Linked DNA regions of Homo sapiens. The protein of the gene in region 2 interacts with the protein of the main gene of each other region in a pairwise test. Each region holds a gene or a part of one and is shown on either strand. Other genes may lie near its edges.

Region 1 (7,991 bases), on a different chromosome or scaffold from region 2:
CATGTTCCTTCCAGACAATGAAAGCTGGAAGTATCATCTCAGCCTTCCATTGATGGACATTATCAATATCCCTTACCAGGAGGCAAGCCATCCACTCCTTTGAAGTAAAATCTCCAAGTAGAACTCTCTTTTAGTCTTTAACAAGAGTCCTTAATGTCACTCTGTAACCCCAATAATTCCTGGTCTCCAATCTACCTTTTCCTGGACAATTTTAATCTGTAGCAATATTTATTTATTTATTTATGAGATGGGGTCTTACACTATTGCCCAGACTGGAGTGCAATGGTGTGATCATGACTCACTGCAGCCTCAACCTTCCCGGCTCCAGTGATCCTCACACTACAGCCTCCCAAGTATCTGAAACTACAGGTGTGTGCCACCATGCCTGGCTCATTTTTTTTTTGTTCGTTTTTCTGTAGAGACAGAGTTTTGCCATGTTGTCCCGGCTGGTCTCTAACTCCTGGGCTCAAGAACATTTGACTGCCTTGGTCTCCCCCAAAGCGCTGGGATTACAGGTGAGCCACCGCGCCCGGCCTGATTTGTAGTAATTTAAATCCAAGTAAACCTCAACAGTAGCAGTATCTTGGGGCATTTAAATTTTACTTTAACCAACTGATAAAACCAAACTTGAATATGACAATTTCATAGGGCATAAGCAAATTCCATGGACTCCTTACATTTATGGTCCTAGATTAATAATATTTTGGTGTTTGAACAGAGTATTTGTAATCTATGTAAGTAAAGGACATGAGGGGAAACACACTTTACTTTCTAAAATTATTCCTCTCCATCACCCTCTTTCTCTAAGCCTTCTTTAATTATGGATTGAAATTTAGTTAGGTCTATCTGGTTCATTCAGATACCTGTAAGAGAGGTCATTTATAGCATAACATCACACCAGGTGATTTAAGCTCCTCTCCTACACAGTTTCAAATACAGAAAAGCAATGACCATTCTTAGAAAAGATCTTCACTAGTCATCCACAGTCAGAGGGACATTTAGAAGCAATTGCAAAAACTGTGGAGACAACGTACAGTTTTTCTCAGCACAATTTACATAGATGTCTGGCTAGCTCTTCCTTGTAAAAGTCCAGTGTCTTCATTTGATGTGCTAAGTTAAACTGTAAACTCCTGAATAATTTGAACTCTTATTTAGGAAAAAAATGTTTTTTCACCTATATACTATAAAAAATGGTGACGTTTATCACAAGGGTCATGCCGTGGGCTCCCATAAAAGACATTGTAGAGCACGATAAAGAACGTTTTCTCCCAGAAGAACATTTATTTCTAAAACCCAGTTCCCCATGTTAAACATCACCTTTGGTTTATCCTTCAGACTCACCGTACCCATGATGTTTAAAATTGCAACCCACACCTGCACTCCCAATTCCCTTTCTCTGTTCTCCTTTTTCATTTTTTCATAGCATTTGTACTTTTCTAACCTAATATACAAATATGTTTTTTATCATTCTTTGCTAGAATGTAAGCTCCAGAGGGAAGGGATCTTTGTCTCTTTTGTTCATTGATGCATCCCAAGCATCAAGGACAGGACGTGATAGAAAATCAATTTTTGTTGAATAAATGAATGAATCTAGGTTGAGTTCAGTAAAAAAATATCTCTGGAGTAAGTTAGTTTCCAATTTTATTTCTACAATTAACAAATACCTTCTGAGCTTCAATTATGGTGGAGATAGATTGATCATACCCTTACAAATATATAATATCAGATGGTGATTAAGTGCTACAAAGCCGAACCAGCAGTACAAGAGTTTGGAGAGCCAGACATTTTAGGTGAGGTAGTCACCTCTCTGAAATGATGGCAATTGTTTCAAGACTTAAATAAAGTTCTGTGCCATGCAGATTTGCGAAGAGTGGGAAAGTGAGCATTGAGCATACTGGAAATACCAAACGCAGACGCCCTGGGATGAGGGTCCGCTTGGCGAGCCCAGCAAGAGCAATAAGGCCTGAGTGGTGGAAGTGGGGTATGCAAGAACGTATCATTCTTGTTGCTTTTACCTGCTGCTTAATAACACGCATGTACTGTCTAGCAGGAAATAAAGAGATTACGTTTCACCTAGAATACTCATTCTCTGAGCCTAAGTGGCTCTTCTATTCCAGCCCCCAAATATCTGTATCAGCACATCATATAAGATTACAAAGCACAGAGTAATGACATTGTTAGAAACTCTTCACAGTAGCCCCAGGAGTCACGAAACTGACTTAACTAAGACCCACTGTCTAGTAAGGTGTAAAACCCAGCAGGAACGCAATACTAGGAAGGTGCAAAGCCAGGAGGCTCAATAAACGTTAAACAGTGTCTGGGGGAAAGAGCAACGATCCAGAGCACTGTTTGTGAACTCAACCACTTTTATTCAGCTCTGACAAGGTAAGTCGCCAAGCGCGGTACAAAGTAGCTCCATGAAATGCGTTTTGTTATAGTCCTGGTCTCGAACTGTTGCAACATTTTATGTAATTTTTGCAAAGAACAAAAGCAAAAAGTTCATTCTAAATTAGCCTTCCAACTCAGTTCTTTCTCCGCCAAGACGGAGCACTTGGAAAGTTTTCAATGTCTGAAAACCTCTATTTCCAGGGCTGAGCAGAGCACTATGTTGCGGCTTAAGACGCTCGGCGATTTCTTCCCATCCCTCCGCAGTTCCAAAACGGCTTCGCCTAACAAAGTCAAACTTTTCGCGCTATTCCTGGACATCAGGACCAAATGTCGAAAGCATATACTGCCACTGAGTTAGTGAGCCGGGCCGGTGCCCGGGACCTGGGGTACTAGATTTATGGGACGGGAGCCTAGGGGTCGAGGCCACAGAAATGAAAACATCGGCAACATATGCAGTGCAGCGAGTGGGTTAGGAGGGAGAAACTTCAGGCAGGACGCTCCCTCGGGACCTGTGACGCCCCCCCAGCCACACCAGACGTGGGAGCTTAGGATGAGAGCGGCCTCCGAGCAGATGATCACCCTGGAACGACGCCAAACGCGACCCCTACCAGAGGACTCGCGCATGCGCAGCGCAGCCTGGGCCGGCGGCCTGGGCAGGATGTAGTCGCGAGCAGCGCACCGGGCCCACGCCAGCGGAATTGCGCATGCGCAGGGCCGCCTCTGCCTGCGGCCTGGGCTGGGTGTAGCCCCGGAACCTAGCTCTTAACTCCCGCCAGCAGTTTTACGCATGCGCGACGACGCCTAGGCCTGTGGCACGGTCGCGGCTCTAGTCCCCTGGGCCCCTCAGCTGTCTCTGGCGGGGAGGTCGGGCCGCAGGGGCGGGGAGGGGTGGCCTGCCCCAGTGGTACCTGACAGCATCCCACGTCACGGCCGCGATCCCCCTCGGCCTCCCACACCACTCCTCCACCCTCTTACCTCCTCGCAGGCCGGAGCCTTGTCCGCTCCGCCTCCTGGGTAGCGGTTACTGCACGGTCAGGGGCCCGGCGCCGCGATGAGTTGGCGCCTCCCCCTGAAACGGCCCGGCCTCGGCGGGATGCGCTCGGGTGCCCGGCCGAGACGGAAACGAAGGGAGCGCAGACAAGAGGAGGGGGCTGGCGACGGCGTCTCGCCCCTCCTCTCCTCCCTAGGCTGCCCACCGCCGCCCCTCCCCTTTCTCGCAGACGCCCCCTCCCCTCGGAGTTGACCCCCGGGAGTCTCCCATTGGGGCCGCCTCCGCTTTTCCAGGGAGTTCCTCCGTGGGTCACCCCCACCTTCTCCAGGGTTATGTTCTCGCAAATTTTGGGAATTTGTGGATACCCGACCTAGAAGGATAAGGCGTGTATGATGCTGAGAGCAACCTTTTCCACAGCCCCTCTCCTCCAGCCTGCCCCAGCTTTTCTTCTATTGCTGGCCCCTCTATCTGGGGGCTCCGATCACTTCACGTTTTCACCCCATTGCTGTGGGGCGGAAGTCTTGTAGCCCCCTGTAGTACAAATGCTGAAATAATGAGGATGTGTGCTGGGGGGTTCAGGGGGATGACCTCAGTTACCTTGGGGCCAAGGGCTTCGAAAACAGCCACCTTCTCCCCTTATGATTATATTTTGCAGTAATTTATTATATTACACTGCACTTCTGTTGGCCTTTGTAGATTTAAGTAAAATGCACCACAACTTTGCAGTGTGCAATAATTTCTTCCACTGCACTACACTTAAATTGACCTGAGTGGGTTTTGGTTAAATGCTCAACAATTAAATGTTATTAGCTATTCCTGTGAAGTAAGCTACTTGCTTTTATACTGGCTGTTTCATGAGGACACTGGTTCCTCTACAGTGTAGAGCCAAAAGTAGTAAAGCCAAAGAGAAAAACTAACATTCCAAACCACAGTGACCGTGTCAGTCTGTTTCGTCTGGCTTTTGTCATTTCTTCGGAAAAACATCATTCTAAAATGTATAACTGCCTTTCTGCTACATAGGGCAGACATTTATCTCTATTCTCTGAGCATAGCCCACTGAGCCTCAGAAGGAGGCACGCAAAATGGTACACAGGTATTTCTTGTAGAGCTCTAAATGGAAGAAAAAGTAAGTATACATTAACAGGAAGTTGCAGCGATAGTGCAGAGAGGCATCGTGTGCCTGCCCCAAGTTTCTCCACTGGTTACATCTTATCAATGAAAGAAATTTATGAGTTAAACAGGTTTGCTCTCAGAAAAAGCTCACTTCAGTGATGATAGCTGGCATTTTTTTTTTAAGCACCTATTGTGTGCCAAGAGGTTTATCTTATTTGGAGCTCACAATAATCCTGTAAGGCAAGGATTATCCTTACTTTACAGATAAGGCAACTCAGGCCCCAAGAGATTAAGTTTCTTTCATCAGCAACCATGGCAAGATCTGTTTGCCTTGCGCACTTGGTCTTTTACGCATTATGGACAGCTGAAGTTCATGCAGGCCTTACGGTGTGCTTCAGCTGAAGCCTGACAATTAGCTAACAATAAAAACATGTCTTAGTGTTTTGAAAACTGTGATATTATCTCAGAAGTTAAAACTTTAAAATATACCTATAAAAGAATGTGTTTCACTAAAGATTTTAATTTTATATGGGTCCAACAGTTTTTCCCAGGGCGGTCAAAATTAAAAGTAAGAAGTAAAAATGTCTCCATCACATATAAGTTTCCTTCAACACTTTTGGATAATTTGGTCTACTAAACTTCACTGTATTGCTGAATTCAGTAGACTAAAAATTTAGACTCTGAGAGAGTATAGGTTAGTATTTCAGGAGTTAAAGTTCCCATCACCACATCTCCCAAGTTTACCTACATCTGTACCTGTGCACTCTATTCCTTCCCATTACTGGGAATGAGCTGTGCATGCTCTTATTTAAGTTCAACTCTTCCACCTTTGTATTAGATCCTGTCTTCCTTACAGTCTCAAGGTTTTCACTCAGGTAGTTGTCACCTCTCAATCCTACATTATTAATTTTTGTATCATTAATTTTTGGATCATTCCCATAAGCATATTAACATTGCGCAACATTTGCCTATCTTTTAAAAAGTTCCTTGATTATATGTCCCCTATCAGCTACCAATGTGTTCTCTGGTCTCTTCCAAAATGTCTTAAAAGAGTCACTTATACTAACTGTATCCTCATCCCCTCCTCCTATTCATCCTCTTTTTTTTTTTTTTTTTTGAGATAGAATCTTGCTCTGTTGCCCAGGTTGGAGTGCAGTGGCGCAATCTCAGCTCACTGCAACCTCCACCTCCCGGGTTCAGGTGATTCTCATGCCTAAGCCTCCCAAGTAGTTGGAACGGCAGGTGTGTGCCACCATGCCCAGCTAATTTTTGAATTTTTAATAGAGATGGGGTTTCGCCATGTTGGCCAGAATGGTCTAGAGCTCCTGACCTCAGGTGATCTATCCACCTCAGCCTCCTAAAGTGCCGAGATTATAGATGTGAGCTATCATGCTTGGCCCTCCTATTCATTCTTGAATCTATTTCAGCCAGGCTTTTGCCCCTACCCCTCCATTGAAACTCCTCTTGGCAAAGTCACCAATGACCTCAGAATTGCTAAATCAGTGGTTACTTTTCCATTATCTCACCTGAACTATCAGCAGCATTAGAAGCATTTGCTTACAGCTGCCATCTTGAAGCATTCATCTTCTTCTGTTGGCCTTCAGGTGGCCCCTGTCTCTTGGTTCGTCCATCTCACTGGCAGCTCCATTGGCTCATCCACCACTTCTCCAGCCATTGGCATACCCAGAGTTTGGTTCTTGGACTTCTCTATCTTCTCGTTCCCTTAGTAATTTTATTTCAAGACATGGTTTTAGTCCTGCCACTTCTTATGTCCTAACAAGTTCATGACACTACTCTTGTGAAACTAGGAGCCCTTGTCCTTTTCCAGCCCACAATGGGGATCTAGCTGCAATAAAAGTCTTCCCTTTCTTCCCTTTTTAAACCCCCTAATTACTTCTGCTTTTGGGGTATCTTTAAGCCTCCTTTAGTTATCCAAAAGCAGAGGAATTCATCTTGCTTTTTTCTTTTCAGGTATCCAGGCACCAAGGCCCTAATCACAAGAAAAGGTGGATGGGGCCGTCTTTTGACTTTTTCTTGGAAATTCAGAAAGTCTAATTACGCTTCAGGGAAGAGGAAAATGTTCTTTTTTTCCTCTTTGCGTCTCCAGAACAAAAATTTAGCACCAGTAAATTTCTACATCAGTCTGCTTGTTACAGATTGAATGCATGAATGAATGACTGCAAGCAGCCTGCACTTTGGTGCCCTAAGTGCCATTGATTAGGTGAATGACCTTGGGTAGCACCTTAGTTTTCTAGAACTTAAATTCCTTCAGACTCCATTAAATTGGTGCACTGCCCAGCTCTGTGTTTTGTAGAGGTATCAGTCACACTGCACCTTTACTGATGCATGCTATTACCATGCTGTATAGAATTGTGCATGTCAGCATGGTATTATAATTGGTGTTAGAATATAAAAGTGATAAAGATGATAATAGGCACATATACACTTACTGTGGCAATAGTGAAAGAATGACAAAATACCAAGAGGTGATCAGAGAAGGCTTTCCAAAACAGATTACTTTAGCATTAAGTTTTCAGTGTGGGCTGGGTGCCATGGCTCATGCCTGTAATTCCAGCACTTTGGGAGGCGGAGATGGGCGGATCACTTGAGGTCAGGAGTTCTTGATCAGCGTGGCCAACATGGTGAAACCCCGTCTCTGCTAAAAATACAAAAATTAGCCAGGCATGGTGGTGGGTGCCTGTAATCCCAGCCACTTGGGAGGCTGAGTCAGTGTGAGTTAGCTAAGAGAACAAAGGTTAGGGATGGAAGTGTTAGGGAAGGGAAGTAGTCTAAGTAGAATAAGAAATATGATGTGTTTGAGAATTATAAATTGCTCAGTAAGGCTGAAACAAAGGCTATATGGAGGGAATAGGGCAATGGTAGGAAATTAAAGTAACCATTCATTCATGAATGGACACTAAGGATGATTCTTTATCTCAACAATTGTGAATAGTGCTGCAGTGAACATGGGAGCACAGATATCTCTTCAACATACTGATTCATTTTTGTTGGACATATACTCAGTAGTGAGATTGCTAAAAATAGTCCTATTTTTAATTTTTTGAGGACCTCTGTACTGGTTTTCGTAATGCCTGTACTAATTTACATTCCCATCAACAAAGGTTCCTTTTTCTCCACATCATTGCCAACACTTGTTATTTTTCATCTTTTTTATAATAGCCATCTTTACAGGTGTGGGGTGATATCTCATCGTGGTTTTAACTTGCATTTCCCTGATGATTAATGATGTTGAACTTTTTTTCATCTACTTGGCCATTTGTAGCTCTTCTTTGATAAATGTTTATTCAGGTCCTCTGCCCATTTTTAAATTGGGTTGTTTTATTGCTACTGAATTGTTTGAATTCCTTATATATTTTGGATATTAACGCCCTAACAGATGCATGGTTTGCATATATTTTCTCCAACTTGCTAGCTTTTCTCTTCACTCTGTTGATTGTTTTCTTTGCTGTACAGAAGATTTACAGTTTGATGTAATTCT
Region 2 (7,795 bases):
TGGCAGAAAGGAAAAGTAACCACAGAAGAGAGGAGAATAGATTTAGACCGTGAGTTTGAAGACTTAGAGACAAACTTCCCACAGAAAACATCCTGACCTGAAAAGAAAAATCCAGGCAGAGGAAGATTATTCAGCAGGAGGGCCTCAGTGGAGGGAGGGTGATCCCTTTAGAAGGAGGGCCTCAGTGGAGGGTGGAAGATCCCTTTAGAAGGAGGGCCTCAGTGGAGGGTGGAAGATCCCTTTAGAAGGAGGGCCTCAGTGGAGGGTGGGTGATCCCTTTAGAAGGAGGGCCTCAGTGGAGGGTGGGTGATCCCTTTAGAAGGAGGGCCTCAGTGGAGGGTGGGTGATCCCTTTAGAAAGAGTCAAACTGTCTCAGCAAGTTCTTGAGAACAACTTCTTCAATATTAGCAAATGAGGTACCAAATATAAAGGTGCATTTTCAGATTTTTAAAAATTCACAAAAATGGCCGGGAGCAGTGGCTCATGCCTGTAATCCCAGCACTTTGGGAGGCTGAGACGGGTGGATCACGAGGTCAGGAGATCGAGACCATCCAGGCTAACATGGTGAAACTCTGTCTCTACTAAAAAAAAAAATACAAAAAAAAATTTAGCTGGGCATGGTGGTGGGCGCCTGTAGTCCCAGCTACTCGGGAGGCTGAGGCAGGAGAATGGCGTGAACCCGGGAGGCAGAGCTTGCGGTGAGCCGAGATCGCGCCACTGCACTCCAGCCTGGGTGACTGAGCGAGACTTCATCTCAAAAAATAAAATGGACAAAAATGTTGGCTTTTAGCTTTGAAACTAAAACTGTTTCTTCTGTGATAATGATAAGCTCAGAAATTGTTTGTACAAGAGATAAAAAGTAGAAAACAAAACGGATATATGTAATTATAATCTTCTCAATTATTATTGGCATAAACAACCTAAGATGAGAGTTAATGTCACTGCCTTTTTTCTCCTTCTAGAAGAATGAGCTAACTAAATCTTAAGGGAAGCTAGATTGCTAGATCCTTTTTCAGCCCCCAGTTCCTGTTTAGGGAGTATCACTGCTTCTTGAACTAAAAACTACTAAGCAAACAACCAGTTGGTTATAGGAATGTCTCTGCTTGTTTTATGTTGACATTTTATTCCTTTTTTTTTTTTTGAGACAGAGTCTCACTGTGTCACCCACGCTAGAGTGCAGTGGCATGATCATAGCTCACTGCAGTCTCCCATGCTCAAGTGATCATTCTACCTTAGCCTGCTGAGTAGCTGGGACTACAGGTGTACACCACCGTGCCTGGCTAATTTAAAAAATTTTTGAAGACATGGAGTCTTGCCATGTTGCCCAGGCTAGTCTCAAACTCCTGGGCTCAAGCAATCCTCCCGCTTTAGCCTCCCAAAATGCTGGGATTACTATTTTTAAATTTGAAAGAGTTATATTGAGGTATAATTGATGTACCTTAAGCTGCACATATTTAAAATGTACAATTTATTAAGTTTTGACACCCATCACCACAATCGAGATAATAAACATATATATCACCCCCAAAAGTTTCATGTCCCTTTGTTAATGGTGGAGGGTGTCCAGTTTCTTAGCGTCTTGAACAAACAATTAGACGAAACGCACAAAGAAAGGAAGGAAAGAAGGGTTTCATTGAAAATGAAAGTACACTCTACATTATGGGAGCAGGCCTGAGCATAAGGCCTCAAAATCCCCATTATAGAATTTTTGAGCATTTAAATACCCTCTACTTGGGGTACACCCTATGTAAATGAAGAGGATGAAGTAAAGCTACAAAGTCATTTAGTTGGCCTACACCCTGTGAAGAGGATATTTCCTGTCATTACCGAAGTGTGAATCGGCCTTCTGTTCCCTGCCTCCAGACCCTATTTTCCTGGCTCATCTGCCCGCTGAGAGATGTGATCCCCATAAATCTTTATGGGAGGCAGAGGGACTGATGGTCTTTTTTCTGTAACTGCTTCATGCTGGCTTGGGGTGTAGTCCCTACCTACTGGTGATCATGGAACTCGCCCTGCTCTATCTAGTGGAGGCAGGGTAGTTTCTTGATGGCTAGGGGTGGTGTCTTCACCTGGAACTGGCTGGAACCTTTGTTGCATGATCATCTGAAGCTTGATGGTCTCCAGACGAGAGGAAATTAATTTGGTTAAAAGATTTAATGGGATGGCCGGGCGCGGTGGCTCACGCCTGTAATCCCAGCACTTTGGGAGGCCGAGGCGGGCGGATCACGAGGTCAGGAGATCGAGACCATCCTGGCTAACACGGTGAAACCCTGTCTCTACTAAAAATACAAAAAATTAGCCGGGCGAGGTGGCGGGCGCCTGTAGTCCCAGCTACTCCGGAGGCTGAGGCAGGAGAATGGCGTGAACCCCAGGGGGCGGAGCCTGCAGTGAGCCGAGATTGCGCCACTGCACTCCAGCCTGGGCGACAGCGAGACTCCGTCTCAAAAAAAAAAAAAAAAAAGATTTAATGGGAACTTCATGGGGTGGATACCTACGCTGTCAGAGATGTTTGTTATAGAGATTTGCAGAAAAAAAAACAAAACCTAGTCTGTTCTAGAATCTATGTTTCCTTGAAGTCTTAGCACAAGCAACTCCATTTTGGTTTGGTTTGGTTTGTTGGGGCCTAATGCATGAGCTTAGTCCAAAACAATGGCCTCGCAAAATTTTGTGCAAAAAATTCCCCCTTTTTGGTCAGGTTCTCACTTAGGTGAGAGTGTGACCAAAACTTAGGGCCTTAGCGCCACTCTCAGTTACCATCATTTTGGGTTTCGGTCTCAGCACATCATTTATAGGTTTTGGTGTTCTCATGGTTGCACATTTCTTTCAGCTTTTGTCATTCCAGTTGAAGAGAGAACATCTGACGTTCTAGAGATGACCGCGTGCAAACATTTAAAACCTTTGAGAGAATACAGCACACCAGGGAGACTATTATTATAAATATTGGGAGGATAACACCAAGAGTTCGGGGTATGCTCCTAAACCCAAGGCCCCGATAAACCAAACCTCCTAAAATCAAATAGATCAAAGAATGAGCTAGATAAAGGGTTTACTCACTTGACTAAGCAATTTCTTCGTTAATCCTCTACCACTGAATTTATTTTTTTCTTTTTTCCTTTTTTTTTTTTTTTAGACGGAGTCTTGCTCTGTCGCCCAGGTTGGAGTGCAGTGGCACAGTCTTGGTTCACTGCAACCTCTGCCTTCCGGGTTCAAGCAATTCTCTTGCCTCAGCTTCCTGAGTAGCTGCGATTACAGGCACCTGCCACCACGCCTAGCTAATTTTTGTATTTTTAGTAGAGATGGGGTTTTGCCATGTTGGCCAGGCTGATCTTGAACTCCTGACCTCAGGTGATCTGCCTGCCTCGGACTCCTAAAGTGCTGGGATTACAGGTGTAAGCCACCGCGCCCAGCCAATGAGGGATACATTTCTAATCATTGCTTCTTTTACTTCAAACCATGGTAAAAGGACCTAACAAATGATGCCTTTCTAGAAGAGTGAAGGCCTACTGGCAATGTTTTCTTTAACCCATGATGTGGGTTAGAGGAGTGAACCAATGTTTTGTTTTTGACTGATTATGAAGCAATGCATGTACCATTAAAGTTTCTTACCTACTTCGGGCCTTCATCTTTTATCTATCAAAGTCTAAGTTTATCCATGTATAAGGCTGGCTGCAAACTCCTTCACAAATAAAAGTATACCCCATAAGTGCACATAACAGACCCCTTTTCCACTTCTATTGTTTGTAGAGGCATAAGGAAGACAAAAAATATTGAAAGATAAGAGTTTCATGGTAGTAGAAGTCTTAATCTGTGAACTTGGGAAAAGCTGTTCACATCAAGGATGCCATTTTCTTCTTGGGAGAAATTTCCCAGGGTAGCTTTACCTCAAAAGTTCCAATGGGTGCACTGTTCCAAAAGTGTGGAGGGACCGTTCTCATTTGCGAGACCATGAACCCAAAGCCCAAGGTCCTGAAGTTTTGTTGTAGTGTGGATGACAAGGACAGTCTTCTCCAATGTTTCCAGAAAATTCAAACCATAAAAAGCTTTCTTTACCGGGGGAAAATACACTGTAGCATAATAATCTACTGTTATAACATCAGCCCTCTTGCATGGGAAAGCTTTTATACAACCAGAATGACAAATTGGAATTCAAATAACAATTGAATGAAATCCCCTTACAAAATGTTTAAATGGCCCACCCGGTGACCAAATGTACATGAAGCTTTGTTTGTCTTCCCAGGAATATGGGACTAAGCATTGGTTATAAACTATTTTAAACAATTTCAGTATCAGCTGGTTTAATATGAAAATCTGACGAAGTATTTTCTTGGTATTTAATTAAATTTTTGCTTGTTTTACTTGGGTTAGTAGCTTTATGCAAGGAAATTTCATTCAAAGCAATGAAAAACAACAACCAGGGCTGATACTGACTACTAAAAACTGTTTTAAACTCAGAAGGAAAAATAATATGGATTTCAGGCGTTCCCAGGTTATAAATGGGTTTTCTGCATGTTTGAAACCAAAAACAAACTTTCCTATAGAAATATCAGTAAATCTAGCAAAGAAATAACACACCCCAACCGTGTCATAGCCTGTCTTAAATAAGGGAAAAACATGAGAGCACTAGTAAGAGGCAAGTAAAGGGTGCTTTGCTTTACAATTGATGGAAGCTCGCAGGCTTTGTTCTTGGCTGCCCCACGCAGCCAGCGGAAGGCAGGCCAAGGAGGAAAGAGCCCGGCCTCCCAGGTCCCCGCAACTACAACTCCCAGGATGCCGCGGCGCAGGCTCCCTGCGGGAGCAGGCTGGGCTCAGCTCCGCTGGACCCGCGCTGGGGAACTCTGGCCTCGCTGCACTCATGGCTTCTCCTAGCAAGGCAGTGATTGTTCCCGGGAACGGAGGCGGGGATGTGACCACCCACGGCTGGTATGGCTGGGTGAAAAAGGAGCTGGAGAAGGTAAGCGCCCAACGCCGCTGCTCCGTGAAGTCAGCCTGGAGGGAGGGACGGCGGGAGAGGACTGAGGGCTGAAGTTTGAATAGGCGTCTAATCCCCTCTAGCAAAGCCCTGTGTGTTTTCCTGCCTCTCCCCCGCTGCCTTCTCTTAAAGTCTGAGCTAGTGGTCGAATTTTGACTGGTAAAACTGCCTGGAAGACTTCTCTGAGGGCTCAGCCTTTAGAGTTAAAGGAACCCCTTTGAACTACCGAGGCTGAGCCCCTGAGCCCCGCCCCCCGTATCTGCTGCTGGTTCAGATTTGGGACTTCCCAGATAATTTTACATGTTCACTGCTTCCCGCTTCAGCTTTTAAAAAATTAAATATGCTATACTTAATATATACAAAGGATATACGTAACATGCGTCTACATTATGAGGCATAATGTAATGAATTACCAAACTAAAACCTGGGACATTGCCTATACATCATCTTCCAAACGACCCTTATGTCTACCCATCTCAGTCCCGTGCCATCCTGAATTTTTTCATCTGCTTCTCTTTTTAAAATTGAAGTACTTTTCAACCTATGAATATACCTTTTAAACAACAGACTGTTCTATTTGGCTTCTTGGTGAGCTTTATAAAAGTGGCATCTTACTGTAGGCTGACCTGTGCCGTTTGATTTTTATTTTTTAACCCTCTTCTGTAACCAGGCGGTAAGTCGGCTCCCTGGGTTGCTGTCCTCTAGAGCGGGTCTCCAGAATAGATTGCAGCGCTGTGGCTGAAAACCCTGGTCAGAGTTACAACCCCAAAGGTCAGGGCTGGAGCTTCTGAGAGTATGCTGTCTCCAAATTTCTGTATCACGTTCCTGTGCCACGTTTTACCTACTCCCTGGAACACAGTCTATTTGGCTCCAGGTCAGTCTGTCTAGAACACATTTGTTCATGCCTCTCTATAGATGCAGGCCTGTAGAGGCAAATATGGGTGTACAAATGCAGATATAGGTCTCTCTATAGAGATCAGCAGAGCTGCCTAGATACAGAACTACAGATGGAGTTCATGCGAAAAGATGGTCACTTAACCTACTTCATTTCATAACACAAGTTAATACTGAATTGGTAACGATCATATCAGGTGCCTCATTTCTTATTAGCAAAGTATTAGTTGTAATTAAGCTCTTTATTATAGCTTTTTCTCCCCCCTCATATCATAGATACCTGGTTTCCAGTGTTTGGCTAAAAACATGCCCGACCCAAGTAAGTTTTAAACTTGTTTTTAAATAGCCTCATCTTGTTGGGTTTTGATATTACCATTTTTGTGGTAGAGAACAAGAATATCATAGTGGAGGAACCAAAGATGCCTATATACCTAAGAAAGAATAAGGCAAGCAGCTTGGGGAGGAGGGTGTGAACCAAAAGCCATAGAAAATTCTTTTTTTTTTTTTTTTTTCAATTCTGTGAATTTGTCATTTTTATTTATTTATTTATTTATTTATTTATTTATTTATTTATTGATCATTCTTGGGTGTTTCTCGCAGAGGGGGATTTGGCAGGGTCACAGGACAATAGTGGAGGGAAGGTCAGCAGATAAACAAGTGAACAACGGTCTCTGGTTTTCCTAGGCAGAGGACCCTGCGGCCTTCCGCAGTGTTTGCGTCCCTGGGTACTTGAGATTAGGGAGTGGTGATGACTCTTAACGAGCATGCTGCCTTCAAGCATCTGTTTAACAAAGCACATCTTGCACCGCCCTTAATCCATTTAACCCTGAGTGGACACAGCACATGTTTCAGAGAGCACAGGGTTGGGGGTAAGGTCACAGATCAACAGGATCCCAAGGCAGAAGAATTTTTCTTAGTACAGAACAAAATGAAAAGTCTCCCATGTCTACCTCTTTCTACACAGACACGGCAACCATCCGATTTCTCAATCTTTTCCCCACCTTTCCCCCCTTTCTATTCCACAAAACTGCCATTGTCATCATGGCCCGTTCTCAATGAGCTGTTGGGTACACCTCCCAGACGGGGTGGTGGCCGGACAGAGGGGCTCCTCACTTCCCAGTAGGGGCGGCCGGGCAGAGGCGCCCCTCACCTCCCGGATGGGGTAAGCCATAGAAAATTCTAGTAAGGATTAGGAAAGCACCTGGGCATGGTAAAATTTAATTTTCAACTTTGCACCAACTTGATTTTTCCCTTCTATATGTCTACAAATATTTTCAGGCAGAATTTGTGGGTACTATACTTGAGGCATAGGTATAAAACTTTACAGCATCTATTTGAGGTCCTAATGTTTAAAAATGTCATATTGCTACTTTTGTTCTGGGTATGCCTATGACTTGTCTCAGGAATCCCCTTTTTGGAAAGAATGAATAAATGTGAATTTTAGAATGTTGCAAGAGTTTTTTTGCTTTTTTTTTTGAGATGGAGTCTCGCTCTGTTGCCCAGGCCAGAGTGCTGTGGCGTGATGTTGGCTCACTGCAACCTCTGCCTCCTGGGTTCAAGTGATTCTCCTGTGTCAGCCTCCCAAGTAGCTGGGATTACAGGCATGCGCCATCACGCCTGGCTAATTTTTTTTGTATTTTTAGCAGAGACGGGGTTTCAGCATTTGGGCAGGCTGGTCTCGAACTCCTGACCTCAAATGATCTGTCCACCTCAGCCTCCCAAAGTGTTGGGATTATAGGTGTGAACCACTGCACCTGACCATTAGCTTTTTTTTTCAAGTTTGAAAGTTTACATTAAAATTTCAGAGTTATATTTTATTATTTCCTTAGTATTTTCTTACAAGAACATGGTAAACCAAAAAAAAAAAAAAAAAAGAGAAAAGAAAAACTAGTTACCAAAACTGTGGACTTGGATCTTTCAAGTAGTAATACA

What was found. The genes of interacting proteins can lie anywhere in the genome.
Region 1: the proteins of RBBP9 (region 2) and RCBTB2 interact in binary tests that used the Homo sapiens proteins (3 or more experiments, as listed by UniProt).

The regions. Positions count from the first base shown.
Region 1 is NC_000013.11:48,529,665-48,537,655, forward strand, and holds the start of RCBTB2 (RCC1 and BTB domain-containing protein 2), read right to left. Parts: upstream 3,417-7,991; 5' UTR 3,364-3,416; intron 2,386-3,363; exon of another isoform or gene 1-2,385.
Region 2 is NC_000020.11:18,494,225-18,502,019, reverse strand, and holds the start of RBBP9 (serine hydrolase RBBP9), read left to right. Parts: upstream 1-4,794; 5' UTR 4,795-4,852; coding exon 4,853-4,951; intron 4,952-6,139; coding exon 6,140-6,182; intron 6,183-7,795.